Regions from separate parts of the Homo sapiens genome. Here region 2 is linked to region 1. The links come from fine-mapping of genetic effects on gene expression. A gene starts in region 1. The other region holds a variant in brackets. All regions are shown on one strand. Distances are from middle to middle.

What was found. PIP is the estimated chance that this variant, and not a neighbour inherited with it, causes the effect.
Region 2: its variant is fine-mapped to the expression of OPLAH in monocytes (TOPMed, PIP 0.98).

Annotation. Positions count from the first base shown.
Region 1 is chr8:144,052,408-144,067,407 of GRCh38, reverse strand. OPLAH (5-oxoprolinase, ATP-hydrolysing) reads left to right here and starts at 6,716. Exons shown (of 27, transcript NM_017570.5): 1 at 6,716-6,755; 2 at 7,323-7,546; 3 at 7,618-7,809; 4 at 8,329-8,428; 5 at 8,512-8,635; 6 at 8,717-8,912; 7 at 9,004-9,169; 8 at 9,260-9,398; 9 at 9,485-9,552; 10 at 9,695-9,960; 11 at 10,088-10,200; 12 at 10,290-10,460; 13 at 10,653-10,790; 14 at 10,885-11,023; 9 more. The coding sequence starts at 7,376. It overlaps MIR6846 (microRNA 6846), which reads left to right and starts at 10,028; the gene lies at 10,028-10,087. It also overlaps a transcript of EXOSC4 not described here. RefSeq lists enhancers at 5,988-6,508, 14,653-15,000 and a silencer at 6,300-6,909.
Region 2 is chr8:143,961,083-143,976,082 of GRCh38, reverse strand. It overlaps a transcript of PLEC not described here. Among named protein-coding and RNA genes, the nearest start is that of PARP10, 18 kb to the left of the region's middle. RefSeq lists silencers at 1,024-1,093, 1,114-1,163, 2,200-2,329, 2,340-2,799 and enhancers at 2,533-3,380, 3,381-4,230, 8,956-9,732, 9,733-10,510, 10,511-11,288. The variant T/C (reference allele first, on the strand shown) is at 6,708.

The sequences.
Region 1 (15,000 bases):
CCCTGTGTGGAATCTCTTTCATGCTTTGAGTTCTTTCCACTGGAAAGAGACCCATCCTTTGGAAGGATCACGTGATTAGGTTAGGCTCACCCAAAACCATCTCCTTTATCCCCCAGCAGTGTCAAAAAACATAACCTAATCATGGGAGTAAAGTCCATCTTATTCACAGTCCTGGGGATTATGCACGGCATGTACAGCAGGAAATCCTGGAAGCCTTCTGAGAATTCTGCCTATCACGCTTTACCCTCTGGCTTTCGGAGTGTGTGAGTTGAAAGTTGACTGACTGAGCCTCTCATTCTTTTTTTTGTTTTTTTGTTTTTGAGACAGAGTCTCACTCTTGTTGCCCAGGCTGGTGTGCAATGGTGTGATCTCGGCTCTCCACAACCTCTGCCTCCCAGGTTCAAGCGATTCTTCTGCCTCAGCCTCCCGAGTAGCTGGGATTACAGGCATGCACCACCACGCCTGGCTAATTTTGTATTTTTAATAGAGACGGGGTTTCTTCACGTTGGTCCGGCTGGCCTCAAACTCCCGACCTCAGGTGATCCGCCCGCCTCGGCTTCCCAAAGTGCTGGGATTACAGGCATGAGCCACCTCGCCTGGCCGAGCCTCATTCTTTTGGGGTAAAATCTCTCCAACTATCAGAAATACTCTACTCCAGGCCAGGCTTGGTGGCTCATACTTGTAATCCCTAATCCCAGCACTTTGGGAGGCCAAGGTGGGTGGATCACCTGAGGTCAGGAGTTTGAAAACAGCCTGGCCAACAGGGTGAAACCCTGTCTCTACTAAAAATACAAAAAAATTAGCCAGGCATGGTGGCACACACCTGTAGTCCCAGCTACTTGGGAGGCTGAGGCAGGAGAATTGCTTGAACCCAGGAGTCGGAGGTTGCAGTGAGCCGAGATGGTGCCATTGCACTCCAGCCTGGGTGACAGAGTGAGACTCTGTCTCAAAAAAAAAAAAAAAAAAAAAAAGAGAAAAACTCTACTTTGGCCAGGTGTGGTGGCTCACACCTGTAATCCCAGCACTTTGGGAGAACAAGGCAGGAGGCCAGGAGTTTAAGGCCAGCCTGGGCAACATAGTGAGACCCCGGGCCAGGTGCAGTGGCTCACGCCTGTAATCCCAGCATTTTGGGAGGCCAAGGCGGAGGGATCACGAGGTCAGGAGATAGAGACCATCCTGGCTAACACGGTGAAACCCTGTCTCTACTAAAAATACAAAAAAAAATCAGCCAGGTGTGGTGGCGGGCACCTGTAGTCCCAGCTACTCGGGAGGCTGAGGCAGGAGAATGGCCTGAATCCGGGAGGCAGAGCTTGCAGTGAGCTGAGATCACGCCACTGCACTCCAGCCTGGGTGACAGCAAGATTCCATCTCAAAAAACAAAACAAAACATAGCGAGACCCTGTTTCTACCAAAAAAAAAAAACAAAAAAACTAGCCAGGCATGGTGGTGCATGCATCTGTGGTCCCAGCTACTTGGGAGGCTGAGGTAGGAGGATCCCTTGAGCCTGGGAGGTCAAGGCTTCGATGAGCTATGATTGCACCACTGCACTCCAGCCTGGGTGACAGAGTGAGACCCCATCTCAAAAAAAAAAAAAAGTAAATAAAATAAAATAAAAAAATAAAAATACTCTACTCCATTTTCTTCCTAATTATAGGAATTATTTTATTGTAGTTGAGACAGAGTCTTATTCTGTTGCCCAGGCTGGAGTGCAGTGGCACGATCTCAGCTCACTGCAACCTCTGCCTCCCAGGTTCAAGTGATTCTCCAGCCTCAGCCTCCTGAGTAGCTGAGATTACAGGTGCCTGCCATCGCGGCCAGCTAATTTTTGTATTTTTTTTTTTAGTAGAGATGGGGTTTCACCATGTTGGCCAGGTTGGTCTCGAACTCCTGACCTCAGGTGATCTGCCCGCCTCAACCTCCCAAAGTGCTGGGATTACAGGTGTGAGCCCCTGCACCCGGCCGAGAATTAAATTGTCACAATTTCTGTTGGGATTCAGTACAGTTGCCCCCAGTCTCCTGGAGCACTAGTCTCAGGGGCACTGCCCCCACTCGCACAGGTGAGGGGCCCTGCGATGGCTCCACTCGAGTAGCCAGGGAAAGGAGTTTGAGAATCCCAGGACAGTCTACAAATCAGCAAGTGGAAACTAGACCATCAAACAAGCAAAAGAGAAAAATGATGTAAAATACATAATAATCATAATGTAAGAAAAAGCCAGAAAACCAAAGTAACTGTGCAGAAGTGTCCCTTTAAAGACAGATTGGAGGCTGGGCGCGGTGGCTCACGCCTGTAATCCCAGCACTTTGGGAGGCTGAGGTGGGCAGATCACGAGGTCAGGAAATTGAGACCATCCTGGCTAACACAGTGAAACCCCGACTCTACTAAAAAAAATACAAAAAAATTAGCCAGGCGTGGTTGCGGGCACTTGTAGTCCCAGCTACTTGGCAGGCTGACGCAGGAGAATGGCGTGAACCTGGGAGGCGGAGCTTGCAGTGAGCCCAGATGGCGCCACTGCACTCCAGCCTGGGCGACAGAGCAAGACTCCATCTCAAAAAAAAAAAAAAAAAAAGACAGATTGGATAGAAGAAGAAAGTCCTTTATGTGATCTAAAATGCAAACCACTGTCACCACTGAGGGTGAGGGTGGCTCTCCTGTCCCTGGGGAGGTGTGTCTTTAGGTCCTGGTCCTCAGCCTCTGGTGGGCCGCCTGGCCCATCCCCTTCCTTGAGGTTATGGCCCAGATGTGGTGCCTCTTCCAGGGCACCTGCCTGCTCGCTGCAACCTCCATGTGACAATGCCAAGGCCCTGTGCCCCCAGAAACAGGCCCAGCCTCCCTTGTGGTGGCTCTAGCACTGCCTGGTGCATCCCTTGGCCTGCAGCCCCCTCCCATGCTGTCCTAGCGTGCTCTCGGCTGGCTCTGCCCCTGTAGCCCTGGCCTGCCCTGGTTGCTGCTGTCCAGCTCCTGCTGTTGCTGGGCCCCATCCTGCAGGGCAGCCACGCACCCACCCTTCCTGATCCCTTCAGAAGCTGTGCCAACCGTGACTGCCGACATACCACACCTGGTTGCCTAAAACTATGTCCTGGCATGGCCAGGCCTGGAGGCTGTGGCTGGTGGCCAGTGGGCTGTCAGACGGGTGGGTGCGGAAGCCTGCATCCCATATCCCTTCCCCCACGACACACCTGGGCTTGGCCGGGTCAAAGAAGCTTCCATCTTCTAGGAGGAGGATTCCTGGAGTGAGCCAGAGACCTGGGACAGTTCTGGGCACCCACTGGCCATTTGGCCCTCAGGGGGCTGGAGGTCAGAGGTCAGGCCACCTCTGCCACGGGGTGGTTGGAACAGCTGGGTCCTGACCCTGAAGGCCCGGAATGCGGCTGAGGCGAGGGGGCAGGGGCAGCTGCTGACCTCACAATAGCAGGGTCTGCTGTCCCTGGCCGGCCTGCTGGCCCCCGCCAGCTGCCGCCGCTGGCTGCCAGGCATGTCCCTCCTCAGCAGCTATGAGGGCCTGCGGCAGGAGATCCAGCGGCTGGCACAGGAGAACGAAGAGCTGCGGCGGCTGGTGCAGCTCATCCAGGAGAACCAGGAGCTGAAGCTGGTGCTCAGGAACCGCGGCAGCAGCCTGGGCTTCTGCAGCTCCGGGTTCCTGGCTGAGGTGGCTGCCAGTCCCTGGCTACCCAGGCGGAGAACGATCAAATTCAAGAATGCTGAGAGAGGTGAGCCGTACCGGGGCCCCAAGACTCTGTGGAGTTGGGCAAACCCGCTGGGTGCTGCGGTGCCTCTGGAGCAAAGCCAGGGCCCTGGGGCTCTTCCAGGATGTGCGGCGGGGAGAAGGTGCCAGGTCTGGGAAAGTGACCTCTGAGCAGAGCCTGAGCGGGCGAGGGAGCTGCCAGGCTGGGGCGCGGCTTTCCAGGCCCAGGGAACAGCCTGTGCCAGGCCCTGAGGTGGGTGCAAGTTGTCTGTGCCTGAAGCTGTCAGAGTCACTGCAACGGCAGACTCTGTCCTCCCAGCCCTGCGCTCTCTGGTGGTGGGGACAGCCATATCCCTGGGGGAACGTGATGGAAGCCTGGCCGGGGTGGAGGTGTGAGAAGTAGCAGCTCTGTGTTCTGAAGGTGAAAGTAACAGGACTTCTGGCAGATTGCGTGTGGGGATGAGAATGGGGCTGGGGCAGCTCGCTGGGTGGGGGAGCCGCTGCTGGAGTGGGCCACTGGTAGGTGGCCTGGGGCTTGGTTTTGGGACGTGTCTGGCCATGCAGTCAGAGGCGCCACTAGAGAGTAGGGGCCGGGCCATCCCGCAGGCCTGGAGCTGCCTCTGGTTGCTGTGGAGGGGCTGCGTGGCATTGCCAAGGGGAAGCTGGGACCCAGCAACATGGAGGGACAGAGATAAAGGCCCAGTGGGGTAGGAGGCAGGTGGGGCAGCCAAGGGAGGCCTGAGCCTGGGTGGGTGGGGGTTGGCTTTTGTTGGTCTGCCCCCGAGACGCGCAGTGGAGTGGGGTCAGGAGAGCCCAGGAGGCAGGCGGAGGTGGGGGAGGTGGACACCTGGAGGTGCACGGCAGTGGGATGCCGCTAGGGAGCGTGGGGACAGGCCCTTAGAGGTTTCGTCTGTGAGTGGATAGCACAGGCCCCTGGAGTGAACAGAGAGGCGAGGGGGTGGCTGGGGATGGTGGAGGGCAGTGAGAGAGTTTGGGGTCTACAGCACAGGCCTGGCGGGCAGCCTGAGTGCGTACAGGGCAGCAGATGGTGGGGGTGTGGGTGGGTGGGGTGTGGGAATCTCTCCTGATAGATCCTGGGCTGACAGGCAGGACCAAGAGGCTGTGCTGGGGATGGGTGGAAACCAGAAGGCAGGGCAGTCCCGCAGGAGTGTGGGCTGGCCAGGCAGAGGCTGTATGGCTGGTGGGGAAGGTCCTCGGCTGAAGTGGGGTTGCTGACCAGAGCTGCTTCCCACGGACTGCTCAGAGCAGGCAGGTGGGGCTCCTGCATGTGGGCGTGGCATGATCATCTGGGGCCTCAGCTGGGCCTCAGGATGGGAAGGCACTAGGAGGTCCATGGGCATGGGGTCTGGGGGTGGCATCACAGCAGGCACGTGCCACTTACAGGGCAGTCATCTGGACATGAGCAGCAGCCCATCCATGGGGAGGGGTTCCTAAGTGCCTGATCCTGGGCCCCATCCCTGTCTATGGGGAGCTGGAGTCCACTGCCCTTGGCACAAATGTTACAGGAAAGGGGTCCCAATCCAGACCCCAAGAGAGGGTTCTTGGATTTCTTGAAAGAAAGAATTCAGGGCGAGTGCCTAAAGTGAAAGCACGTTTATTAAGAAAGTAGAGGAATAAAGAATGGTTACCCCATAGACAGAGCACCCCGAGGGCTGCTGGTTGCCCATTTTTTTTTTTTTTTTTTTGAGACGGAGTCTCACTCTGTCGCCAGGCTGGAGTGCAGTGGTGCGATCTCATCTCACTGCAAGCTCCGCCTCCTGGGTTCAAGCGATTCTCCTGCCTCAGCCTCCCAAGTAGCTGGGACTACAAGTGCGTGCCACCACGCCCAGCTAATTTTTGTATTTTTAGTAGAGACAGATTTTACCATGTTGGCCAGGATGGTCTTGATCTCTTGACCTCATGATCCACACGCCTCGGTCTCCCAAAGTGCTGGGATTACAGGCGTGAGCCACCGTGCCAGGCCGGTTGCCCATTTTTATGGTTATTTCTGATGATATGCTAAACGAGGGGTGGATTATTAATGCCTCCCCTTTCTAGACCATATAGGGTAACTTCGTGCCGTTGCTGTGGCCCTGGTAAACCGCCATGGCGCTGCGGGGAGTGTAGGACGATGGTTTTGGTAGGTTTGGCCAACTTCTTTACTGCAACCTGTTTTATCAGATACAGGGTTTTTTTTTTTCTTTTTTTTGAGACGGAGTCTCGCTCTGTCGCCTGGGCTGGAGTGCAGTGACACGATCTCTGCTCACTGCAGCCTCCGCCTCCCGGGTTCCAGCGATTCTCCTGCCTCAGCCTCCCGGTAGCTGAGATTACAGGCGCGTGCCACATGCCTGACTAATTTTTGTATTTTTAGTAGCGAGGGGGTTTCAACCGTGTTGGCCGGGCTGGGAGATACAGGTTTTTATGACCTGTGTGTTGTGCTGACCTCCTATCTCATCCTGTGACTTAGAATGCATTAATCGTCCGGGAGTGCAGCCCAGTAGGTTTCGGCCTCTTTTTAGCCAGCTCCTATTCAAGATGGAGTTGCTCTGGTTCACACGCCTCTGGCACAAGGAGGGCTGGAGATGAGGGAGACCCGGTGAAGAAGGCCAGAGATACCGCACAGGAGAGGCCCACGGGGCCGGGAGCTGGGGCTGGTAGAGAAGGCCGCAGGGCCTCCCCTCTCCTCTCTGTCCTTCAACGCCCCCTCCACGGGGAAGGACGTCCGCCAGTGGGAAGCCCTGTTGTGGCCTGGGCTGCCAGCTCCCCTTGCCCAGGACACCTGGAGGTGGGATCCTGGGGCGCCCACGCTAGGCGAGCCCAGGCCCGGCGCCGGAGACCCGAGGGCCGCAGAGCCAAGGTGCCCTTGATCCTGCGCCCGTGGCCCGGGGAAGCGCAGGGCGAGGACGGAGGCGCGGGGGGCGGGCCCGGCCTGATGTAACCGCGAGTGCCGGGACCAGTGGCGCGGGGGGCGGGCCCTGTAGGCTCCTCCCCGAGGCGAGGCTGGTGCGGGCAGGGCCGCCGGGAGCGCAGGCAGAGCCGACCGCGAGCGACCGAGCCGGAGCCGAGCGCCAGGTGGGGCCTGCGCCGGGCGGCCTCCCCTCCGCGGCCCTTCCCCGCTGCCTCCCGGGCTTCCCCTCCGCGGCCCCTTCCCCGCTGCCTCCCGGGCCGCTCCTCACGCGTCCCCGCCTCGGGTCGCCCCGTCGGTGCTCAGGCTCCGTCCTGTCCCGGGGCCCGCCAGGCTTGGGTCGAAGGTCGAGCAAAGCGGGAAGTGGGGTCCCCCGGCCAGCTCGCCCCAAACCCCCTCCCCGCACTCCCGTGCCTCTTTCGTGCTGAGGGACCCCGCCCGAGGGCTCCAGGGTCCAGCGGCGTCCCCACCTCCCGTGCCTGCTCCGCTGCCTGGGTTTCGGCCCAGTCCAGGGCCCGGAGAAGCGCGATGCTGGGCATGGGGGCATCAGGCCGCTGACCGCCGGCCAGGCTCTCGCTCGGGCCCAGGCTGCCCTCGGAGCTGGGCCTGCGGCTCTGGCTCTTCCCAGAGTCGTGCCCGTGGGTCTCTCCCTCAGGAACCCCCCGCATGCGCAGGGCTGGGGAGCCTCTAGTCCCACTCGCAGGTGAGCCCGGGCTGACCCCGCCTCCGTCCAGTTTTTCCAGGGCTACCAGCTGAAGAGCTCCTGTGGGACTCCAGCCCCACCACCATGGGCAGCCCCGAGGGCCGCTTCCACTTTGCCATCGACCGTGGGGGTACCTTCACAGACGTCTTTGCCCAGTGCCCAGGGGGGCACGTGCGGGTCTTAAAACTGCTCTCAGAGGACCCTGCCAACTATGCGGACGCGCCAACCGAAGGCATCCGCCGCATCCTGGAGCAGGTGGGCCAGGGCGGAGCGGGTGGACAGGGACCCCACGGCCAGAAGCCCCACACTGACCACGTGGTCCCCAGGAGGCCGGCATGCTCCTGCCCCGGGACCAGCCGCTGGACTCCAGTCATATCGCCAGCATCCGCATGGGCACCACAGTGGCCACCAACGCACTGCTGGAGCGGAAGGGGGAGCGGGTGGCGCTGCTGGTGACACGTGGCTTCCGAGACCTGCTGCACATTGGCACCCAAGCCCGTGGGGACCTCTTTGACCTGGTGAGCTCCATGTTGGCTGGGGACCAGGCTGTGTGGTGTACACCCCCCAGGGATGCCTTGACCCTGTGGGGAGAGCAGTTGTTGGATTAGTGATGGCTCATGGGCACCAGCCGACAAAGAGGAAGCTCCCGAATTCCCAGTGGGACCCCAAGTTCTCCTAGCCCTCGGAGTGGGCACAGGATGCCCTGTTCCTGCCTGCCGCCATGCCCACCCTGGATGCTGGTGTGGGGCCACCCAAGCTACCCTGTTCAGGCAGAGGAGGGGTGGAACCCCGCACCTACTGCTGCGTTTCCGGAAGAAGCTGCCTTCGTGGGGGTGGAGCAGTTGGCTGCACTCAGCTGCCTAGGGGGTGGAGAGCTGCCCCCTTGGTGAGCCTTGCTGGGGCTGCCAGGTATGACTCTCCTGGGCCTGCCGACCGGCCTGTTGGGACACAGCCACTCACCTGTACCACCCACTCACACAGGACCCCGGCCTGGACCCTCAGGCCTGGGCCTCTTCTGAGTCTCTGCCCGCCCCCAGGCCGTGCCCATGCCTGAGGTGCTGTATGAAGAGGTGCTGGAGGTGGACGAACGCGTGGTGCTGCACCGTGGAGAGGCGGGCACCGGGACGCCTGTGAAAGGTGTGTGTGCCGCCGCTGCTGTGGGATTTGGGGCCGGAGGGTCCTGCTGGCCTTTAACGGGGCCTCCTGGGCTTTTCTGGAAGGCCGCACGGGGGACCTGCTGGAAGTGCAGCAGCCTGTGGACCTGGGGGCCCTGCGTGGGAAGCTGGAGGGGCTGCTATCTCGAGGCATCCGCAGCCTGGCTGTGGTGCTCATGCACTCGTACACGTGAGTGAGGTGGGGCTGTGGGCTGCGGGAGCAGGTGCCGGGCCTGGTGGGAGACGAGGTGCCACTGGGTTTTTGTCATAGGTGGGCCCAGCATGAGCAGCAGGTGGGTGTGCTGGCCCGGGAGCTGGGCTTCACGCACGTGTCACTGTCCTCGGAGGCCATGCCCATGGTGCGCATCGTCCCTCGGGGGCACACGGCCTGTGCCGACGCCTACCTCACGCCCGCCATCCAGCGCTACGTGCAGGGCTTCTGCCGTGGCTTCCAGGGCCAACTCAAGGTGAGGCTGTGAGGCACCCCCACTGCCCACTCCTGGGCCTGGGCCTGGGCCTTGGCCTGCCCCTCATGGCCCGCCTGCTGCCCGCTCGCAGGATGTGCAGGTGTTGTTCATGCGCTCCGATGGCGGCCTGGCGCCCATGGACACCTTCAGCGGCTCCAGTGCTGTGCTCTCGGGCCCGGCCGGCGGCGTGGTGGGCTACTCAGCCACCACCTACCAGCAGGAGGGTGGCCAGCCTGTCATCGGCTTTGACATGGGAGGTATGAGGGCCGAGGGCTGGGGTCTCGGGGAGGCTCAGCTGCTGGGCCCCTGGGTCTTCAAGTGACCCACCAGCACCCCACCCCTGCCAGGCACGTCCACGGATGTGAGCCGCTATGCTGGGGAATTCGAGCACGTCTTCGAGGCCAGCACAGCTGGCGTCACCCTCCAGGCCCCGCAGCTGGACATCAACACCGTGGCAGCGGGAGGGGGTTCCCGCCTCTTCTTCAGGTCAGCTCTCCTGCTTCCCAGGCTGGGACCCCAGCCCTGTCTCCCTCCTCGTGTCCAACTCCAACCCCAGCCCTTCCTTCCCCTAGGTCTGGCCTCTTTGTGGTTGGGCCCGAGTCAGCAGGAGCCCACCCAGGACCCGCCTGCTACCGCAAAGGTAAGAGTCAGGATCTGGCCGGCCTGGCCTTGCCCTCCGCTTGCCGCCGCAGGCCCAGCCCCTCCTGTCAGCCCTATCCCTGCTGCCTACTCCTGCTCCCCTGCCTCCAGCCCCCAAGCCCCACACCCTGTCCACCTCCCAGGGGGCCCTGTGACAGTGACGGATGCTAATCTGGTCCTGGGTCGCCTGCTGCCTGCCTCCTTCCCCTGCATTTTTGGGCCGGGAGAGAACCAACCACTTTCCCCTGAGGCCTCCCGCAAAGCCCTGGAGGCTGTGGCCACTGAGGTCAACAGCTTCCTGACCAACGGGCCCTGCCCGGCCTCCCCGCTGAGCCTGGAGGAGGTGGCCATGGGGTTCGTGCGCGTGGCCAACGAGGCCATGTGCCGGCCCATCCGTGCACTCACGCAGGTACGTCCACCTCTGCTCTCCCGCCTGTCCTGCCCCCAGCCCTGCTCCCTGCCCCAGGCCTCCTGCTCAGGCTGGGGGCTGGATGGGGTAGAGTAGGAGAGCCCACTGACCCCTTCTGTCTCCCTAGGCAAGAGGCCATGACCCCTCAGCCCATGTGCTGGCCTGCTTTGGGGGAGCTGGTGGGCAGCATGCATGTGCCATCGCCCGGGCCCTGGGCATGGACACGGTGCACATCCACAGGTGGGCCTGGGTGTGGGTGCACGGAGGTGGTGTGATCTGCGCCGGGCTTGGGAGGTGACCTCCCATTGCCATGCTGCCCATCCCTGCAGGCACAGTGGGCTGCTGTCGGCCCTGGGGCTGGCCCTGGCTGACGTGGTGCATGAGGCACAGGAACCCTGCTCCCTGCTCTACGCGCCTGAGACCTTCGTGCAGCTGGACCAGAGGCTGAGCCGCCTGGAGGAGCAGTGTGTGGATGCTCTGCAGGCCCAGGGCTTCCCCAGGTGGGCTCCCAGGGTGCCCTGGACAGAGGGCTTACGTTGTCCTCACCACGCCCTTGGTGGGTGTTCCTCCTGATGACTTCCCAGGTGGTCCCGGGGTGTGCGAGAAGCAGAACAGGTGTCCTTGCCGGGCGCTGGGTGGGGTGGGGTCAGGGCAGGGGGTTTGGTGTGAGTGCCCCCAACCACCTGCTGCAGGTCCCAGATCAGCACTGAGAGCTTCCTGCACCTGCGCTACCAGGGCACGGACTGTGCTCTGATGGTGTCTGCCCACCAGCACCCAGCCACAGCCCGCTCGCCCCGTGCGGGGGACTTCGGGGCAGCCTTTGTGGAGCGGTACGTGGCTTCCTGACTCCGGATCCCTGGCAAGGGGCCCTCCTGTCTGGCCGCCTCACTCTGACCACTCCTTGGGTCCCCGCGGGGAGTGCAGGTACATGAGGGAGTTTGGCTTTGTCATACCTGAGCGGCCGGTGGTCGTGGACGATGTGCGAGTGCGGGGCACCGGCCGCAGTGGTCTTCGCCTCGAGGATGCCCCCAAAGCCCAGACCGGGCCTCCCCGGGTGGACAAGGTTGGTGGTCCTGCCTGTGCCAGCCTGACAGCACCCATGGGGCACCGGGATGGGGACCAAGCCCTGTGAGAGGCATCGGGGAGGGTGCTGGGCCCGGGCGCTGTACTCACCCGCACCCTCTGCAGATGACCCAGTGCTACTTTGAGGGGGGCTACCAGGAGACCCCTGTGTACCTGCTGGCAGAGCTGGGCTATGGGCACAAGCTCCATGGGCCCTGCCTCATCATCGACAGTAACAGGTGGGCTGAAGTCCGGCCAGGGTGGAGGATGTGGACGGGTCCACTGCGGGGCCCCTGGTGCAGGGTTCTCTGGCCCAAGGCTGCAGGGGCCTGCAGGACTCTGTATCCCACCATCGTTGGGGTGGCCCCTGGCCTGGGGCCGTGGCATCTCTGGTTGGAGGGGTGTCGCCTGGCCCCATGCAGCCCTCTGTGCCCTCTGCTCCCCAGCACCATCCTGGTGGAGCCAGGTTGCCAGGCAGAGGTGACCAAGACAGGGGACATCTGCATCTCCGTGGGGGCCGAAGTCCCCGGCACAGTGGGCCCCCAGCTGGACCCTATCCAGCTGTCCATCTTCTCACACCGCTTCATGAGCATTGCTGGTGAGTGGCCGCTGCCAGGCTCCCTGTGGGATGAGGCGCCGGCTGTGTCATGGGGTAGCTGGCAGGGCTGTGCCCAAAGGGAGAGGCAGAAGCAGGACCCCCTGGCGACGGGGCGGGCAGTGTGGCCGCAGCACTGGTGTGGTGCAGTTGGCCATGAGAACAAACCTTGGGCAGGGAGGACACCTTCCCCCCTTACCTGCAGCCATGTGATCCAGAGAGTGCCCTCCTAGCTAAGGAAGGGATACTGAGGACAGCACAGGGAACCCATCTGTGCAGGGTCAGGCCAGCGGCTTGCTGGGAGCCCAGAGGTCAAGAGCCTAGGAACCAGGTTCTTGCTGTGCCAGGCAGGGTGGGAGGGTCGAGGGGTGGCACTGGGTTCTTGCTGGGGGCTCCAGGCAGGGCTGGGGAAGGTGGTGTCCTTTACATAGGCTAAGACGTGGCCAAGTGGGCACACCGTCAACTTGGTCTTCCCCAGGAAAAAGCTGCTGGGTTTTTCCTGGGTCCTGGGTTTGAGTCCTGGTGGGTCCTGTTCCTCCCTTTCCTGGGGCCAGGCTGTGGGTGGGTGGGGCCAGCGGGCCTGGTCACTTTGTGCTCCTAGAGCAGATGGGCCGCATCCTGCAGCGCACAGCCATCTCCACCAACATCAAGGAGCGTCTGGACTTCTCCTGTGCCCTCTTTGGGCCCGATGGGGGGCTGGTGTCCAATGCCCCCCACATCCCTGTGCACCTGGGTGCCATGCAGGAGACGGTGCAGTTCCAGGTGGCCCTTCCCCCGCCTCACCCTTCCATCCCCCTCCCTCACCCTCCACCCCCCCCCCACCCCGCTCTGGCCCCTGCTCCCCTGTGCCCACTCTGCACCCATCTCCTGGTTTCAGATTCAGCACCTGGGGGCCGATCTCCACCCTGGCGACGTGCTACTGAGCAACCATCCCAGTGCCGGGGGCAGCCACCTGCCAGACCTGACTGTTATCACACCGGTGAGGGGTGCTGCCCGCCTGCCTCTGCTGGGGCAGTGGTGGCCGATGCAGCTGACCGTGGCTCTCCACCCGCTAGGTGTTTTGGCCGGGTCAGACGCGGCCTGTGTTCTATGTGGCCAGCCGAGGGCACCACGCAGACATCGGGGGCATCACACCAGGCTCCATGCCCCCCCACTCCACCATGCTGCAACAGGAGGGTGCCGTCTTTCTGTCCTTCAAACTTGTCCAGGGGGGCGTCTTCCAGGAGGAGGGTGAGTGGGAGTGGGGTGGGGCAGGCCTTCTGTAGGCTGGGACACATGGCCACTGCTGGCAAGCAGGCCTGGCTGGACCGTGGGATGCAGCCCATAGGCCCAGGCCTGCCTTGAGGCTGGGAGGAGATAGGTGGTTACCCCAAAGGGCAGCTGCAGATCGGATCCCGGGAGCTGAGATGAATTCAGCCTGGGCCCAGGAAGGCCTCCCGAGGGGTGGTTTTGCGGGTGGAGAGTTAGCCAAGACGTGGAGGGTCAGGGTGCTGGAGAGAGAAGCCTGTTTCAAGGTGGGTGGCTGCTTGTGGTGTGTGCAGTCATACTGGGTGGGGTCCGCAGAGAAACAGCAGGGCAGGGGCAGGGCCCAAAGGCCCCTGTAGAGTTTTCTGGGCCTAGGTCTGAGTCACTGGGTGGTGGGTGGCCGTGAAGGGCTTTCAGCTGGGCCTGCGCTGAGCTCCCACTGTGCCCACGTGCAGAGAGGATTCGGGGTCTTGAGAGTGGCCTGGAGGCTGGGGGGCAAGGTGGGGGGAAGCTGCAGTTGCCCTGGATGATGCTGATGTCTTGGGCTGAGTGGAGAGCGAGGGCGGGGGGTGGGGGACAGTTTTAGAGGTGGAGGTGGGTATTTGGAGGGATTTGGGAGAGGGGGCCAGGGGTCAAGTTTGGGCAGCTGGAGGTGGAGGGCCTGGCACTGAGCAGCTGCAGGGAAGGGGGGATGGAGGCTGCAGGGGTGCCTGTGGTGGGGGTGGGGGTAGGAGAGACAGGGAAAAACAGCCCTGGTCTGAGGCTGCAGGTCTGGGAGCCCAGGGGAAGTGGCGTGGCCAGGGTGGAGGGTGGTGGCAGAGGGTGGGTGTAATGGAACCACAGGCTGTTCTGGGTGTTGAGGACACAGATAGGGTGGCCCATTGCTGGCTGCTCCCTTGGTCAATGTGAGCTGGGGCAGGGGTTGTGGACCACAGAGGGACATGCACAGGCACACTGCAGAGGGCCTTGTGGCTGCCTCAGAGGGGACCCTGAGCCAGGCTCAAGGAGAGGGGCTTTCCTGAGGTGCTGAGCAGTCCCAGGCCAGGCCTCGGTGCTTTCTAGGGGCCAGAGACCTTGTCTGGATCTGGGAAACCTGGGTTGGGGGTGCAGACAGGGTTGGCCAGGGGCTCAGTGATGACACTGTCCATCCAGCGGTGACGGAGGCCCTGCGGGCGCCAGGCAAGGTCCCCAACTGCAGCGGAACCAGAAACCTGCACGACAACCTGTCGGACCTCCGTGCCCAGGTGGCAGCCAACCAGAAGGGCATCCAGCTGGTGGGGGAGCTCATTGGGCAGTACGGCCTGGACGTGGTGCAGGCCTACATGGGCCATATTCAGGTGGGCCTGGGCACAGGAGTGTGGGCGGCAGGGCCATCCTGCAGGTGACCTGGCCACCACTGATCCTGCTCCCTGCCAGGCAAACGCTGAGCTGGCCGTGCGAGACATGTTGCGTGCCTTTGGAACCTCCCGGCAGGCCCGGGGCCTGCCCCTGGAGGTGTCCTCGGAAGACCACATGGACGACGGTTCCCCCATCCGCCTCCGTGTGCAGATCAGCCTGAGTCAGGTGGGCCGTGGGGAGAGTGCCTCTAGGCGGCAGGGGCACGGTGCGGCCGCTGACAGCCTCTCCCTTCCCTCGGGGCGCGCAGGGCAGCGCCGTGTTTGACTTCAGCGGCACTGGGCCGGAGGTGTTTGGTAATCTCAACGCACCGCGGGCCGTAACCCTGTCCGCCCTCATCTACTGCCTGCGCTGTCTGGTGGGCCGCGACATCCCACTCAACCAGGTTCGCAGGGGTGTGTGCGCGAGGGGGGGCCCCAGCCCGAGGTCACCCTGAGTGCGCCTCCTGGGCCCAGCCACGGTCTGACCCCACGGGTGCTGGGGCGGGGGGTGGGGTGCTGTTTCTCCCGGAGCCCACCCCAAGAGCTCCTGAGAGCCGCCCGCCCCGCACAGGGCTGCCTGGCGCCAGTGCGCGTGGTCATTCCCCGAGGCTCCATCCTGGACCCGTCGCCCGAGGCGGCGGTGGTGGGCGGCAACGTGCTCACGTCGCAGCGCGTGGTGGATGTCATCCTGGGGGCCTTTGGGGCCTGCGCCGCCTCCCAGGTGCGGGGGCGGGGTGGGCGCAGCTCGGGGGCGGACTGGGT
Region 2 (15,000 bases), 91 kb after region 1:
TGCGGAGATCGAGGTGGGACTGCGGGCTGAGGTGGGGTGGCGTGATGGGGAGTCCTAGAGGTCGAGAGAGCTTGGAGGTGGACTGCCGGTGTCCAGGGGAAGGGCTTGGGTGTCCTTCCCTGATGACCCGGTGAGTGGAGGGGGCGGTGGTCAGCTTTCCTTGATGGCCTCGCCTGCCTGCGATTAGAGGGTTAGAGGCGGGTCCAGTTTGGGATGGAGGCAGTGGAGGCCGGCATCTGAGTGAAGGTAGTCACCCCTTCCCCTTCCATTTGACAGAGTGGAAGGTGGTCTGTCGTGTGCCGGTTGAGCCCCTGGGTGACAGAGTAGGTGGGTGGGGTGTGGGTGACTAAGAGAGGAGAGTGGCAGTCAGTGTGTGGGAGTGGGGGTGGCCAGGGTGGTCAGTGTCCTGGTGATGGACTGGAGGGTAAGGCCAGTGGCTGGGGGGTCACTGTGTAGGTATCTGAGGAGTGCGCGGGAGGGGGCAAGGCAGTCATGGATGGAGAGAGGGTAAGTCAGTGCCTGGGGCCAGAGCATGGGGGTCAATATGTGGGTACAGCAGAGTGCAGGAGGGGTGTGGGTGCCAGTGTCCAGGCGAGAGGCTGGGTGGGGAGAGTTCAGTGTCTAGGTTAAGAAGGTGGTGGGTGGGTCGGCGTGCAGAGTCCACTCCTGAACAGGCAGAGATGTGACCCCTCCTGCTCCCCTTCCAGGAGGCCATGTCGGGTGAGGACGCTGAGGTCCGGGCAGTCTCTGAAGATGTCTCCAATGGAAGCAGTGGCTCGCCCAGCCCTGGGGACACACTGCCCTGGAACCTTGGGAAAACGCAGCGGAGCCGGCGCAGCGGGGGTGGCGCTGGGAGCAACGGGAGTGTCCTGGACCCAGCTGAGCGGGCGGTCATTCGCATCGCAGGTAACTGCGCAGGGCCTTGCCTGTGCACCTCCTTGGCACGCGAGGTTGACTGAGTTCCCGCTGCGTGCTAGGCGCTGGAGCGGGGACTGGGTGGGGGAGGCCTAGGGGGATCTGCGGGTCACGGAGGGCCTCGCGCGTCCCAGGTGAGTGCAGGCGGCACAGCGCCACCTGCCGGCCGCGCCCAGGCGGTTCATGAGGCCTGGGGTTGGGCTTCTTGCCGCGGCGTCCATCCTTGATTTTAACACGGTCCAGTGCCCAGATGCAACAAGGATAATTTTTTGGGTTCCCCACCAGGCCCTCGGTCTTGGCTGCCACAATGGCGGCCAGGTGGGAATGTACAGGAGCAGTGTATAGGGAGGGGGTACCTGGTTGTCTGGAGCCCCAGCCTCTTCCTGAGCCAGGATCTGGCCTTGCTTTCCAGTAGCTCCCCATCCAGGGAGAACGATGGGAAGCATCCAGCGAGATGCTTGGGGAAGGGGGAGGGCAGGAGGGAAGTGGGTGACCTAGAGCTGTGCTAGGAGAGGGAGGAGCAGTAGCTCTCTAGGCTTTGGCTTGAGAGTCCTGACCTGTTCCAGCCGGAGGGCAGGGAGGCCCCTGCGGGAGGCCAGGAGAGGGCTGCAAGGCCAGGTGCTGAGCCCTGGGGGGATGTTGCAGACGACGGGAAGCGGGGCTGGTAGGAGCAGGAAAGAGGGAAGGAGAGGGTCACTGCTGTGCACCCAGCTCCAGCCCCAGGGTCTGGTTCCATCTGCATGACCTTCAGGGCTTTTCACAGCACACACGGACTTTAAAGAAAGAAGTCACTTTCTTCCCACTTGAAAGGGAATCACTTGTGTCGTTCCCACGCCTGGGCTTTCTTCAGCATCACCTTTACAGTTGTGGAGGAGTGTGGGGGGTCCCGAGGCCCCGGCTGACCGTGGTTGCCTTCGGTACTCACTGCAAAGGCTTTGCCCCCAGCCAGCACCTTCCGCGCCGGGGCTCTGCGTCCTCTGACGGTTTCCTTAGGACCGATTCCTGGAAGCGGGACTTGCAGTTACAGGACATATGGCATTAAGCTTGGAGAAAACACGGCCAGGGGCATCCCAGACAGGGTGGCCGACATTGGTGAAGGCGGGGAGAGCGGGGGCTTTGCCAATCTGATGGGTGGAAAGAGTTGTTTTAATTATCACCAAGCATTTTTTCCTTCTGTGAATGGGCTATTCCAGTCCTCGTATGTGTACTTAATTTTTCTTGTGTGTAGTGTTTTAAGGGTTCTTTATACCGACTCAGTCGTCTCCAATGTTGCAATGGGAAAGTTCTCAGCTGCACGCAGGAAGCAAGGTGGGGGGCGGGCAGGGGAGCGTCTCGGAGGCAGGTCGCCGGCCCGGCGGGGAACAGACAGGTCGCGGCCGCCCCTGGGCGGGGGCCACCCGAGGACCCCCGGGCGACCGCGGTGTCGGCGGCCGCGACCCGGGCGAGAACGGGAAAGGGCGTGCGTGCGGGACTCGGAGCCCGCGGAACCGGCCCGCCGGGAGGGGCCCAGACGCGGCTCCCTCTGCCCGGCCGCGGCGGCCCCGGCCCCGCCCCGCCCGTGGGGCATCCTGGGTGCGGGGGCGGGGCGGGGGCGGGGCGGGGGCGGCCTCTTTAAGCGGCGCGCGCGGCCGCGGGGACAGAGTGGCCGCCGGGTGCTGGAGGCTCCGCTGCACCCCGCGCCCCGCGCCCGCCGGCATGGCCGGCCCGCTGCCCGACGAGCAGGACTTCATCCAGGCCTACGAGGAGGTGCGCGAGAAGTACAAAGGTACGGCCCCCCGTCCCGCTGCCTGTCGGGCCGCTCCTGACAGCCCAGCCGCCGAGCACCTTGTCGTCCACGGTGGCGGTCCCGATCGCCGGCCCGAGCGCGGCCACTCCGCCGGCCTCGTCCGCCTGGATCGCCCCCAACGGCTGCCAGTGCCTAGGGAAGGGGAGGACTCGCTCCGCTGAGCCCCCGAGGCCATGCCCTTAATAGGGCATCGCGCGGCTCGGGTGGGTGGGGTGGGCCGCGGGCGGGTGGGGGCGCTCAGGGCTTGTCGGGGTCGGCTGTCTGAGCCAGGATCCGGTGTCTGTGGCCAGCAGACACATGGGTCAAGGCTGAGCCATCCCCTGCCCCACCTCTGGGGCGCGTCTGCATGGAACAGGGGCAGCTCCGCCGCCTGGCAATGGGTCACATAGTTGCCGCCTCTCCTCACCTCCCTAAACTGGCGAGGGCCTGGGCTGCCACCCTTCCTTGGCAGGGCACCCCCCCCACACCCCTTCTCTGTTCACTAGGGGACAGCTGTGGGCTAGGGGTCAGGGTGGCCCCTCCTTCCTCTCTAGGGGAGCATCAGAGTGGCCTGCCCACCTGCTTGATGCCTCGGCAGACCCCCTTGCCCTAGTCCACGCCCACGGGGAGCCCCTGGACCCTCCCAGGTCCTGGTCCCACCGGCCATTCTTGCAGCCCAGCTGCCTGGCTCAGCCTGGGTCGCCCGGCTCCAGGCGGTTGTGGACACAGCATTGGCTGCCGGCCTGCAGAGGCTTAGGAGCAAGGGACTGAGCTGCTGGGGAGGGTCGCGGTGGGGGCCCCCAGGCAGAGCCGATCAGAGCAGACTCCAGCTCCACGTGGCTGGTTTTGCTGGCTCTGCCCCCAAGGGCAGCTCAGGGAGAGAGGTCCTGCTGGGGCCCCGTGGTGCCGCTCTCCACCACAACCTTGCCCAGCTGGGTAGGTTTCATGGTGCCCCGAACTCATCTCCTTCAGGCGTCCTCCAGCGACGGCTCTGGGGCAGGGTGGATGTACTGCTGTGGCTCTCTTTGACAGTGCTGTGCCCAGCCGCTTTGCCTGTGTGACTAGTTCATTCGGGCCAGGGGAGACACTCCTGCACCCTTGGGGAGGCCTGGAGCGGGCAGCCTGTTGCTCATGCTCTACATGGCCGGCCCTGCCTTAGAGGGAGCACCCGGAGGGGTGCTGGGGTATAGGGCAGGGAAGCAGCCGCCCACCTGGGCTCCAGCCCTCCTGGCAAGCCCCAGGACAGAGCTGTTTCTGAGCTGACCACTCTGTTCAAAGTGCGGGAACTGTGCAGGATCGTTTCCTCCTGGAGTTCTTCATCTGGTCAGGTTGCTGGGCTGCCTGGGGTGCCCCAGCCTGTTCTGGGCATTGTGCTGAGGCTTTCCTGGCCCCAGGGCTGTCTTTCCTCTACCTCCTGGGGTGGGAACTACTTCTGATTCATCCAGGGGTGAGCCAGACAGATCCCTGGAGGTTGCTGGGACCCTCTGTCAGGGTCCTCCCTCCCAAGCGCAGCTCCTCTGGAGGCCAGGATTGGTGTTGGGCACACTCGCAGTCTTGGCCCATTGTCTGCCTTCTGGGCTTGGTGGTGGAGGCTGGTGAGGGGGCAGGGGGGCCGGGGGGCTTGCCTGAAGTGGAGTTGTCACGTGATGGTGCAGCTGCCCGCATGTGTGTGGCACTGGCCTGAGAGTGGCTAAACAGCAAGGCAGGTGCTGAGGCTCCGTGAGCACACCAGGTACCCCAAGTCTCCTTAGCTCCTGGCTTGAGACAAGGGGACGGGAGGGGCTGGGCTGGTACCTGTGTCTGGGAGCCACGGACCAAGGCTGAGGAGGGCCTGCAGGAGGTCAGAGGTGGCCCCTGTGCCCTACACCTTTCCAGGCCTGACCTCTGTGAGCCCCTTGGACCTGCTAGAGGGCTGGAGCCCCGGCCCTTCCTGTCCCTGGGGTGGAGGGACTGTGGGAGGGCATGGCACCCCTTGCCAGCCAGCCAGTGACGGCAAGGCAGCCCCAAATCCCTCCATGGTAAGCAGCTGCGGGCCCCTGTCCTGGGCCCAGCTCAGCATTTGGTGGTTCTGAGGAGGGCAGGGAGGCCAGGCCTGTGCCCCCTGCCCAGCTGATCCCTGCACTGAGGAGGTGCTCTGGCTTAGGCCTCCTGGCCTCCTCCCCTCTGTGGCATTGCCTCGGTTCCACCTCACTGTGCCCTCTCACAGACAACTCCCTGTCTGACCCTCACTCCGGTGACCTTCACCCCCCACCCCACAACGTCTCAGACCCTCCCCTGGACACGTCATTCCCTGGCTCTCCCCTGGAAATCCCCGGTCTTCCCTGTACAGTCAGGCGGCCACTGCTCCGCTTGGAACATCGCCAACTTCCTGTCTGCCTGAGCCCCTCAGCCCCCCCATTCTCCCTGTCCCCCATCCAGGGCAGATTCCTCTGGGGCTGAGGCTACTGCAGCCTGTGGCGGGAGAGCTCTGGGCACCCTGTGGGAGAGGCCTCCGTGCTGAGGGCTGTGGGCTGGTGACTTAGACAGTCGGCCCAGCTGCCAAGAGGTGTCCAGTCGCCCAGCGCCCCAAGCCTGGCCTGTGACAGCTCATAGAGGCTGGGCCGTTCTGCCGCACCATGGGAGCCTGGAGAGAGACCTGGGGTGGGTGTGGCAGGGCGGGGACAGTTCTAGGAGAGAGTTGTGGCAATGCAGGTGAGTGGAGGTGAGGCGGCCAGTCCATAACTGAAAAGAGAGCGGTGTTGCCAGGGGCTGGGTGAGAAAATATCCTGGAATTGACAGCTACACAACTCCGAATCTACTGAAACCACTGAATTGGACGCTTTGAATGGGTGAATGGTGTGGCATGTGAATTACCTCTCAATAAAGCTATTAAAAAATACTAATAATCAGCATGAGGTCAACCTAATTGGTACTGACATGAAAAGCCAGTGGCTCCAGAGGAAATCTCAGTCTGAGCTCCCTGTAAAGGGGCGGCCAAATCCGTGTGCTCTCTCCCGCCCTCTCTCATGCACAGCGATCGCCCCAGCCGGGAGCCTGAACCCAGAGGTGTGACTCTCCCCGTTTTTCTTTGTATACTTCCACCCTGCTTGATTTTTTTTTTTTTTGGAGCGTTTTACTTTTGACAGTAAACACCGACCAAAATTCCTCTCCAGTGAGCCCCAAATAACCTCCAGCCTGCCCTCTGCCAGCTGAGCACCAACCACTGCAGATGACGCCCTACGCCATCACCCACTCACCCGTGCAAACACCCTGCAGTGCTGGCTGAGGGCCTGGGGCCAGTGCCAGGGACACAGATAACCAAGCTCAGAGTCCAGGACAGGGGAGAGTAGGGGACACATGAGGAGGGGGCCAGGCACAGTGGCACTGGGCAGGCCCAGGGCTGGCAAGGGGTCCTGAAGAGAGTGCAGGCCACAGGCTGGGCACACGCCCTGTGGAGACCCAACACACCCAGCCCCTCTCCAGGCCCGCTTTTCCCCCAGACCAATGCAGGCCTCCCACCCCTGGCCCCTGCCCCACACCAACGCCACCCACTCACCAACGGTACTCACCCCGGCCTCATTCTCACCCCTGCTGCCCTCTCCAGGACCACCTCACAGCACCCCTAAGCCCCACTCCCATCCCTAACATGACAACCTAAAGTCTCTATCCCCAGCTGCCCAGGCCCCCGGCTGGCCCCACTCCCCACTCCCCGGCCTGCACTCATGCCCTGACCCCCAGGACAGGCCCCTGCCCACAACGCTGGACTGCTGCTGGGCCGCTCTTTCTTTCTTCACTGACCGCCTCACCTCCACTCACCTGCATTGCCACAACTCTCTCCTAGAACTGTCCCCGCCCTGCCACACCCACCCCAGGTCTCTCTCCAGGCTCCCATGGTGTGGCAGGACGGCCCAGCCTCTATGAGCTGTCACAGGCCAGGCTTGGGGGGCTGGGCGACTGGACACCTCTTGGCAGCTGGGCCGACTGTCTAAGTCACCAGCCCACAGCCCTCAGCACGGAGGCCTCTCCCATAGGGTGCCCAGAGCTCTCC[T/C]GCCACAGGCTGCAGTAGCCTCAGCCCCAGAGGAATCTGCCCTGGATGGGGGACAGGGAGAATGGGGGGGCTGAGGGGCTCAGGCAGACAGGAATGGTTATGGATTGGCCTGTACTGGCCCTGGGTCTGGCCTCTTCGACTTGCCGGGACGCTGTCAGGGCTGCTCACATCGCCGCGCCATCAGCACCTCACCCTCCCCCCGCTGGAGTCGGTTCCGTGGTGTGGAAGTGCCCACTTTTGCTTATGCGTTTATCAGTTGACGGATAGTGGGTTGTTTCCACCTTTTGGCTGTTATGAGTGAGGCTGCTATGGACGTTTGCATACACGTTTTTGTGTGGTCGTATGTTTTTTATTTCTGCTGGGTAGATACCTAGGAGTGGAATTGCTCAGCTGTGTGGTAATTCTATATTTAACCATTTTGAAGAACTGCCAGATTGCTTCCTAAAGCGGGCGTGCCATTCTGCATGCCCAGTAACAGCCGGGTGCGAGGTTTCCAATTTCCTCACATCCTCACCAACACTTGTTATTATCTGACTCTTTGATTGCAGACATCCAATCCTAGTGGGTGTCGAGTGGAATCTCATTGTGGTTTGATTTGCATTTCCTGATGGCTAATGACGTTGAACACTTTGGTGTGATTGTTGGCCATTTTTTATATCTTTTGAGAAATGTGTATTTCAATCCTTTGTCCATTTTAGAATTTACCTTTTGGTATTTTTGAGTTGTAAGTGTTCTTTATATATTCTAGATGCCAGTCCTTTATCAGAAATATGATTTGCAAACATTTTCTGTTTCTGTGGTCTGCCTTTTTATTTGCTTGCTGGTGTCTTTTTTTTTTTTTTTTTTGAGATGGAGTTTTGCTCTGTCACCCAGGCTGGAGCAGGTTCAAGTGACTCTTGTACCTCAGGCTCCCGAGTAGCTGGGACTACAGGCGTCTGCCACCACACCTGGCTAATTTTTGTATTTTTAGTAGAGATGGGGCTTCGCCATATTGGCCAGGCTGGTCTCAAACTCCTGGCCTCAGCCTCCACAGTGCTGGGATTACAGCGTGAGCCACCTCACCTGGCCGGTGGTGTCCTTTGAAGCACGTACATTTTAATTTTAATTATTATGACTCCAGTTTATCTATCTTTTTCCTTGGTTGCTTGTGCTTTTGGTGCCATATTTAAGAAGCCATTGTCTAATCCAAGTCATGAAGCTTTACACCAATGTTTTCTTTTCTTCCTTTTTTTTTTTTTGAGACGAAGTCTCGCTCTGTCTCGCTCTGTCACCCAGGCTGGAGTGCAGTGGCATGATCTCAGCTCATTGCAACCTCTGCCTCCTGGGTTCAAGCAATTCTCCTGCCTCTGTCCGCCGAGTAGCTGGGATTACATGTGTGCGCCACCACACCTGGCTAATTTTTGTATTTTTAGTAGAGATAGGGTTTCCCCATGTTGGCCAGGCTGGTCTTGAACTCCTGACCTCAAGTAAGCCACCTGCCTCAGCCTCAGTGCTGGGGTTACAGGTGTGAGCCACCGCGCCTGGCCTGAATTCTTTGATTATTAATTAAGCTGAGCACATCTCCTAGAGTTGTTGACTATTTGCACCTTTTCTTTTGTGAACTGCCTATTCACAAGCATTGTTGGCCAGGCTGGTCTTAAACTCCTGTGCTCACATGGAAATGGAATCAAGGGATCCTCCTGCCTTGGCCTCCCAAAGTACTGGGATTACAGGTGTGAGCTGCTGCCATGCCTGGCTACTACACCTTTTTACATCAGGGACTTGAGCATCTGTGGATTCTGGTATCCATGGGGAGTCCAGAACCCATCTCCCGCTGATACCGAGGGACACTTGTATTCGGCGTAAACTTCGAAGTTGCCTGTGGGCAGCACCAGCTCACGGAACAGAACTTTTCAGCTCCTGGAAAGTTCCTGCTGAGTCCCCACTGGGCACACCATGGATGGGTCTCACACCACGCATCTATTTTTGTTTAATTCTGTCTGTTTCTTTTTTTTTTTTTTTTTTTTTTTTTTTGAGATGGAGTCTCGCTCTGTTGCCCAGGCTGGAATGCAGTGGCGCGATCTCGGCTCACTGCAACCTCCGCCTCCCGGGTTCAAGCCATTCTCCTGCCTCAGGCTCCCGAGTAGCTGGGACTACAGGCGCCCGCCACCATGCCCAGCTAATTTTTTGTATTTTTAGTAGAGACGGGGTTTCACCGTGTTAGCCAGGACAGTCTCGATCTCCTGACCTCGTGATCTGCCCACCTCGGCCTCCCAAAGTGCTGGGATTACAGGCGTGAGCCACCGCGCCTGGCCTAATTCTGTCTGTGGTTTCTTTAGCCATATCAATTTTTAACACTCACCAGTCTTTTATGATTTCTGGATTTTATGCTATGCTTAAAATGGCCTTCTTTTAGAAAAACATCTGCTGAGAGTTGCTTCCAGCACTGCTGCATTTTTTTAAACATCTCTGTCGTTAATCTTTGTGGAATTTGCTTGGGGCTGAGGTCGAGATGTTCAAGGAGGCTCGATGTCATGCTTGGTGTCACGCTCATAGGGTCTGGCCGTGGGCTTGTGGGTTACAGGGATGATTGTAAACATCTCCCCTTCCACCAATCCGGCTTCCTGACGCAGGGGCTGTGTATTGCTTCACTTCTGTGCCCCCGAGCCGAGCCCTGCCCTGTCCTGTGGCAGAATCCAGCTTCCTGACGCGGGGACTATGTGTTGCTTCACTTTTGTACCCCCCCAGCCGAGCCCCGCCCTGTCCTGTGGCAGGTGTGGCTTGAAACAAGCGTTGGGTGGGAGGGATAGGTGGACTTGGAGCTGGCTGGACCCCTGCAAGATCCTGGCCTGGTGCCTCCCAAGGAGCGGCTGAGGAGTCCCCCGTGGTGGCTGTGGAGGTAGAGAGCAGCCTGGGGTGGAGAGGATGTGCCTGCGGCAGAGAGGGCGGAAGAGCCAGCGCTTAGCCTTGGGTGCATAAAATCAGAGATGCCTGTGAGATAGGTATGCGTGTGCAGACACTGAGGTGCAGGAAATGCTGGGCTGAGGTGGGGAGGCCAGGCTGGGAGGCCATCACTAGGGCAGGCCTCGGGCCAGAGCTCTGAGCCTGGGGTCCTCCAGAGCTTAGGTGCCTATGAGAAGAGGCAGCCGGGAAGCAGAGCAGTGGGCAGCTGTGCAGCCATGGGGGCCTGTTGGGTCTGCGAAGGAGGAAGGGGCGTGAGGAAGCAGGGCCACGTTGGGAGCAGGGTGAGGCCTGGATGGTGCTGGGACCAGGTGATGAGGGGTGTTGGGACCTCAGCGGGACTGCTTGGGGTGTCGTCGGATTGGAGGTGCCAGGGGGCATGTGGGAAGTGCTCAGGAGGCCCTGCTGGTGCCAGGCTATGGTGGGTCCAGCAGGGTGGCAGGGAGGGAGAACCCTCTCCAGGACAGAGCGGTGACATGGAGGCTAGGCCGCAGCAGGTCACAGCCTCAGCTGGATGCTGGCCCGAGTTCCCTGGGGAAGGAGTTCCCTGGGCCTTGGCCTGAGGGACCTGCATGGTCACAGGGGGCATGGGCATCACCTGGCCCAGGGTGAGTACTGAGTGGTCGCTCACATTTACCCAGCCACACATCATCAGTGGCCAGTCCAGACTGCTGCTCACCACTGAGGGCCCTGGAGATTTTCCCAGGGTTGGGCTGTTGGGAGGGTGTGGGCAGTGGTGCCCTGTGGCCTCAGTTTCCCCAGTGAGGCCCAAGAGGAGCTGGCAGCAGAGGGGCCAGGGGCCAGGTACCTCAAGAAGGGACTGGAGGAGGCTGGGAAGGGCGATGCTAGTGGGACCAGGTGCCCAGATCTCCCACCGCTGGGGTCATGGGTGATGCCCACAGACCCACAGTGGGTAGGGAGATGCGGGGCTGGGAGAGCAGGGGCCGTGGGTCATGAGGTCAGGGACCCAAAATGGGGCATGGGCCGGGTCATCTGTAGGCCCAGTGGAAGGGGAGTTGGGAACACGCGTTCAGACGGTGGAAGGAGGGTGCCAGCTGGGAAGACAGGATCCTGTAGGACTTGGGACATCAGCCTGTGGGGCCTGCTCTCCAGGATTTGGGTCCTGGTTAGCTGCAGAAGAGTCCTCCCAGCTGGTGGTCAGCTCTTGGCAGGACTGTTGCTGCTTCTTCCTGGAGGCAGAGGAGACCCAGGACCAGGAATGGGATGGGGATCACTTTGTGTCCCTGTGTGGCTCCAGGAGTAGCGGCAGACCCAGGGCCAGTGCTGCAGGAAAGGAAGGCCCCAGGACGGCATCAGGGTGGCTGGTGTGAGTCTGGGTGCTCTTGGGCAGGCTGGTGTGTCAGGTGGGCTGGGGCCAAGTGGGACGGTGAGGGTGGGGAAGGCCATCCACAGGGGCACACCAGGGTGGGCGGGGGGGTGGGGGTTGGTTGGGGGAGTGGGGCTGGTCAGGGCTGGAAGTGTGGGTCTGCAGGAGCAGAAGGAGGTAGCTGCAGTAAAGGTCTCTGGTTGTGGCTTTTATGATTTTTATTCTGCTCTGTTTTTCAAATGAATGTGTCTTTTGACCTTTTGAAAGTGCATCTCTTTCTCTTCTTTCTTGCTAAACGAGTGGCTACCTGGGAAGCTAACAGAGCAGGCACAGGATAGGCCTAAGAGACACAGCTGGACGCCACTGTCATGACTGCCACAAGAATGCATGGTTGTTTACAGAATACAGATACCCCCAGAGAATGTGCCCTGTTTTAGGTTCCTGTGGCTGCTGTCACACGTACCCACAAACTGGGTGGCCTTAAACAACAGAAATGTATTCTCTTACGGTTCTGGAGGCCACATGTCCAAAATCAAGATGTTGACAGGGCCACGCTCCTTCGGAGGCTCCAGGGCGGACTCTGTTCCTGGCCTCTCCAGCTCCTGGTGGCCATCGGTGCCTGGGCTCGTGGCCGCATCACTCCAGTGTCGGCCTCCATCCTCCCGTGGCCCTCTCCCCTGTGGCTTCTCTTCCATCTCTTGTAAGACACTTGGCATTGGTTCTAGGCCCCCTACTGGGTAATCTAGGATGATCTCATCTCAAGATCCTTGTGTTAATTACACCTGCAAAGACCCTTTTTCCAAATAAGATACCAATTATGGGTTCCAGGGAATTGTTCATAGACATATCTTTTGGGGACCTCCATTCAACCCACTACAGTCTGTCCTCTGGTCCCTCAAAACTTACATCTGCCCCACTTCCAAAATAAATGTTTCTTATGCCAACATGCCCCAAAGTCTCAACCTATTGTAGCATCAGCTCTAAGTCTAAAATTCCATCCGCTTAGCCAGGCACAGTGGCTCACGCCTGTAATCCCAGCACTTTGGGAGGCCTGTGGGTGGATCACCTGAGATCAGGAGACCAGCCTGGCCAACATGGTGAAGCCTTGTCTCTACTAAAAATACAAAAATCAGCCAGTCATGGTAGTACACACCAATAATCCCAGCTACTCAGGTGTATGAGGCACGAGACTTGCTTGAACCCGAGAGGCAGAGGTTTCAGTGGGCCGAGACTGCACCAATGCACTCCAGCCTGGGTGACAGAGCAAGACTCCATCTCAAAAAAAAAAAAAAAAAAAAATTAGCCAGGTGTGGTGGCACATGGCTGTAGTCCCAGCTGCTCAGGAGGTGGAGGTAGGAGGATTGCTTAACCCTGGAGGCTGAACCCAGGTGACAGAATGAGACCCCATCTTGAAAAAAACAAGAACAACATTTAATCAGCTCAGAAGTCCCAAATCTGATCATCGAAGTTGTGTCTAAATCAGGTGTTGGTGAGGCTCTGGGTAGGATCCAGATGGGGGCAAAATTTTTCTCCATCTTTTTACTTGTAAAACTAGAAAGCAAGTTTTATGCCTCCAAACTGCAATGTTGGGCTAGGCATAGACTAGACATCACCATTCCCAAAGGGAGAAATATAAAGGAATAAAGGGGTTGCCAGTCCCAAGCAAGTCTGAAATCCAGCAGGGCAAATTCCGTGGGGTTTCAAGGCCCGTGAATGCTCTTCTGTGGCTCAGTGCCCCACCCTCTGCACCTGCACCTCTGCCAGCCTCTGCCTCTAGGCCTAAGGCCCTGACCTTGGAGTCATTCTTCCTTTTTCTCAAAGGGTAGCACATGTTTGCAGCTGCCTGGGTCTGTCATCCTGTTTCTTGCCTGTAGACTCTCAGAAGCCCAATACCTTCCTTCATTTCATCCTGTCTCTGTTCCCATCAATCCAAGCAGGCAGTGTTTCTGCTGGTAAAACATTCTCATAAACCTTCTGGGTCTCCCCTGTATGTCACAGGGAGCCAGGCCATTAGAGAGAAGGGTTCACTCGGATCCTCCCTGGATAATCTTGTCTCTATTCCTGGCTTCTGTTGAGATGAGTGAATGGACCCATGAGTCACATACCTCATCTCTGCAGAGATGGCTTTCTCTGCAGAACACACTTTCCTAACAGTGAACCTCCCAACATGAGCATCTTTTGCAATCTAAATAGGCTGCAGATATCCCAAATCACCCATGCTGTTTCCTTTTTGCTTAATAGTTCCTTCCTCAATTTATCTCTTTCTTCCTGTACTTTACCATAAGCAGCAAGAAGCAGCCAAGCCACACCTTCCACACTTTGCTTGGAAATCTTTTCAGCTAAATATCCAAGTTCATTGCTTACAAGTTCTGTTGAGCACCCGACAGTGAACACAGTTCGGCGAAGTTTCGCTTCAATGTGAGAAGCACCTTTCCTCCACTTTCCTCGTTGCCTTCTAAGGCTTCACCACAAGCACCTTTAATACCCATATTTCTACCAACCGTCTGGTCAGACAGGCTAGGCTTTTTCTACTGTGTGCCTCAAGATGTCCCAGCTTCTGTTTATTACCCAATTGCAAAGCCACATCCACATTTTCAGATATTCGTCACAGAGGCACCCTGCTCCTGCTCGCTGTCTGTATTGATTTCCTTTGATTCCCACAGGGAAGAGCCACAGGCAGGGCGCCCTAAAACAATAGAAATTTATCTTTTGATTGTTCCGGAGGCCAGAAGTTAAAAATCCGGTGTCGGCAGGTCCACGCTTTCTCCGAAGGCACCCGGGAAGAGCCTAGGAATAGCCGCCTGCCTCTTCCAACTCCACTGCCCCTTGGCTTGTGGCTGCATCATGCCAATCCCTGCCTCTGTGTCTCTCCTCGTCTAAGGACACTTGCTTTTGGATCTAGGGCCCATCCAGGTAATCCAAGATGATCTCATCTCAAGATCCTTTATTTAATTATATCTGCAGAGACCCTGTTTACAAATAAGGCCACATTTATGAGCTCCAGGGACATGGACATAGATTTTTTTGTGGCCACCATTGGACCTACCCAGCCATCCTGCAGTAGTTGGTTAATGTAGAACTTACACATTTTTGTTCCATAGTCATTGTTTTAAAAAGCGTGCACAGTGGGCTGGGCACGTGATTACAGGTGGCACATGCCTGTAATCCCAGCACTTTGGGAGCCTGAGGTGGGAGGATCTCTTGAGCCCAGAATGTCAACACTGCAGTGAACCTGGGCTACAAGAGCAAGACCCTGTCTCAAAAAGAATAAAAAAATAAAAAAGCATGCACAGTGTTCTTTAGTGTGTGTTAATTTATCTGTAATTTCATGATTTAATGTTATGAAGTATTTTAGACATAAGTAACTTCTTTTACTTAGTGATACAGCTTGGGCATCTCTCTGTGACATTAATTTACAATACAGCATTCCCCTGTATGGAAACCATATCATATTTAACCAATCAATCCTTTCTCCTAGGACACGGAGTTTAATTTTGGATTTTTGTATTAGAAATGACTGCAGTGAACAGTGTTGTAGCTGGGTCATTGTGCATCTCTATGACTGTTGTTAAAAAGGGAATTTCTGGCCAGGTGCGGTGGCTCACGCCTGTAATCCCAACACTTTGGGGGGCCGAGTTGGGCAGATCACGAGGTCAGGAGTACGAGACCAGCCTAACCAACATGGTGAAACGCTGTCTCTACTAAAAATACAAAAATTAGCAGGGTGTGGTGGTGCACGCCTGTAATCCCCGCTACGCAGGAGGCTGAGGCAGGAGAATCACTTGAACCTGGGAGGCGGAGGTTGCAGTGAGCTGAGATCGCGCCATTGCACTCCAGCCTGGGCGACAGGGCAAGACTCTGTCTCAAAAAAAAAAAAAGGAATTTCTGGGTCAAGTGGTTTTCAAAATTTAAGCTTTAATTTACATCAAGATACTGTTTTTTACCTATCGTATTGGCAAAAATCAAAAATCTGGATTTCTAGGTTCTGTTGCTGAAGCTGTGGGAACCAGGCCAGAGAAAGCGTCT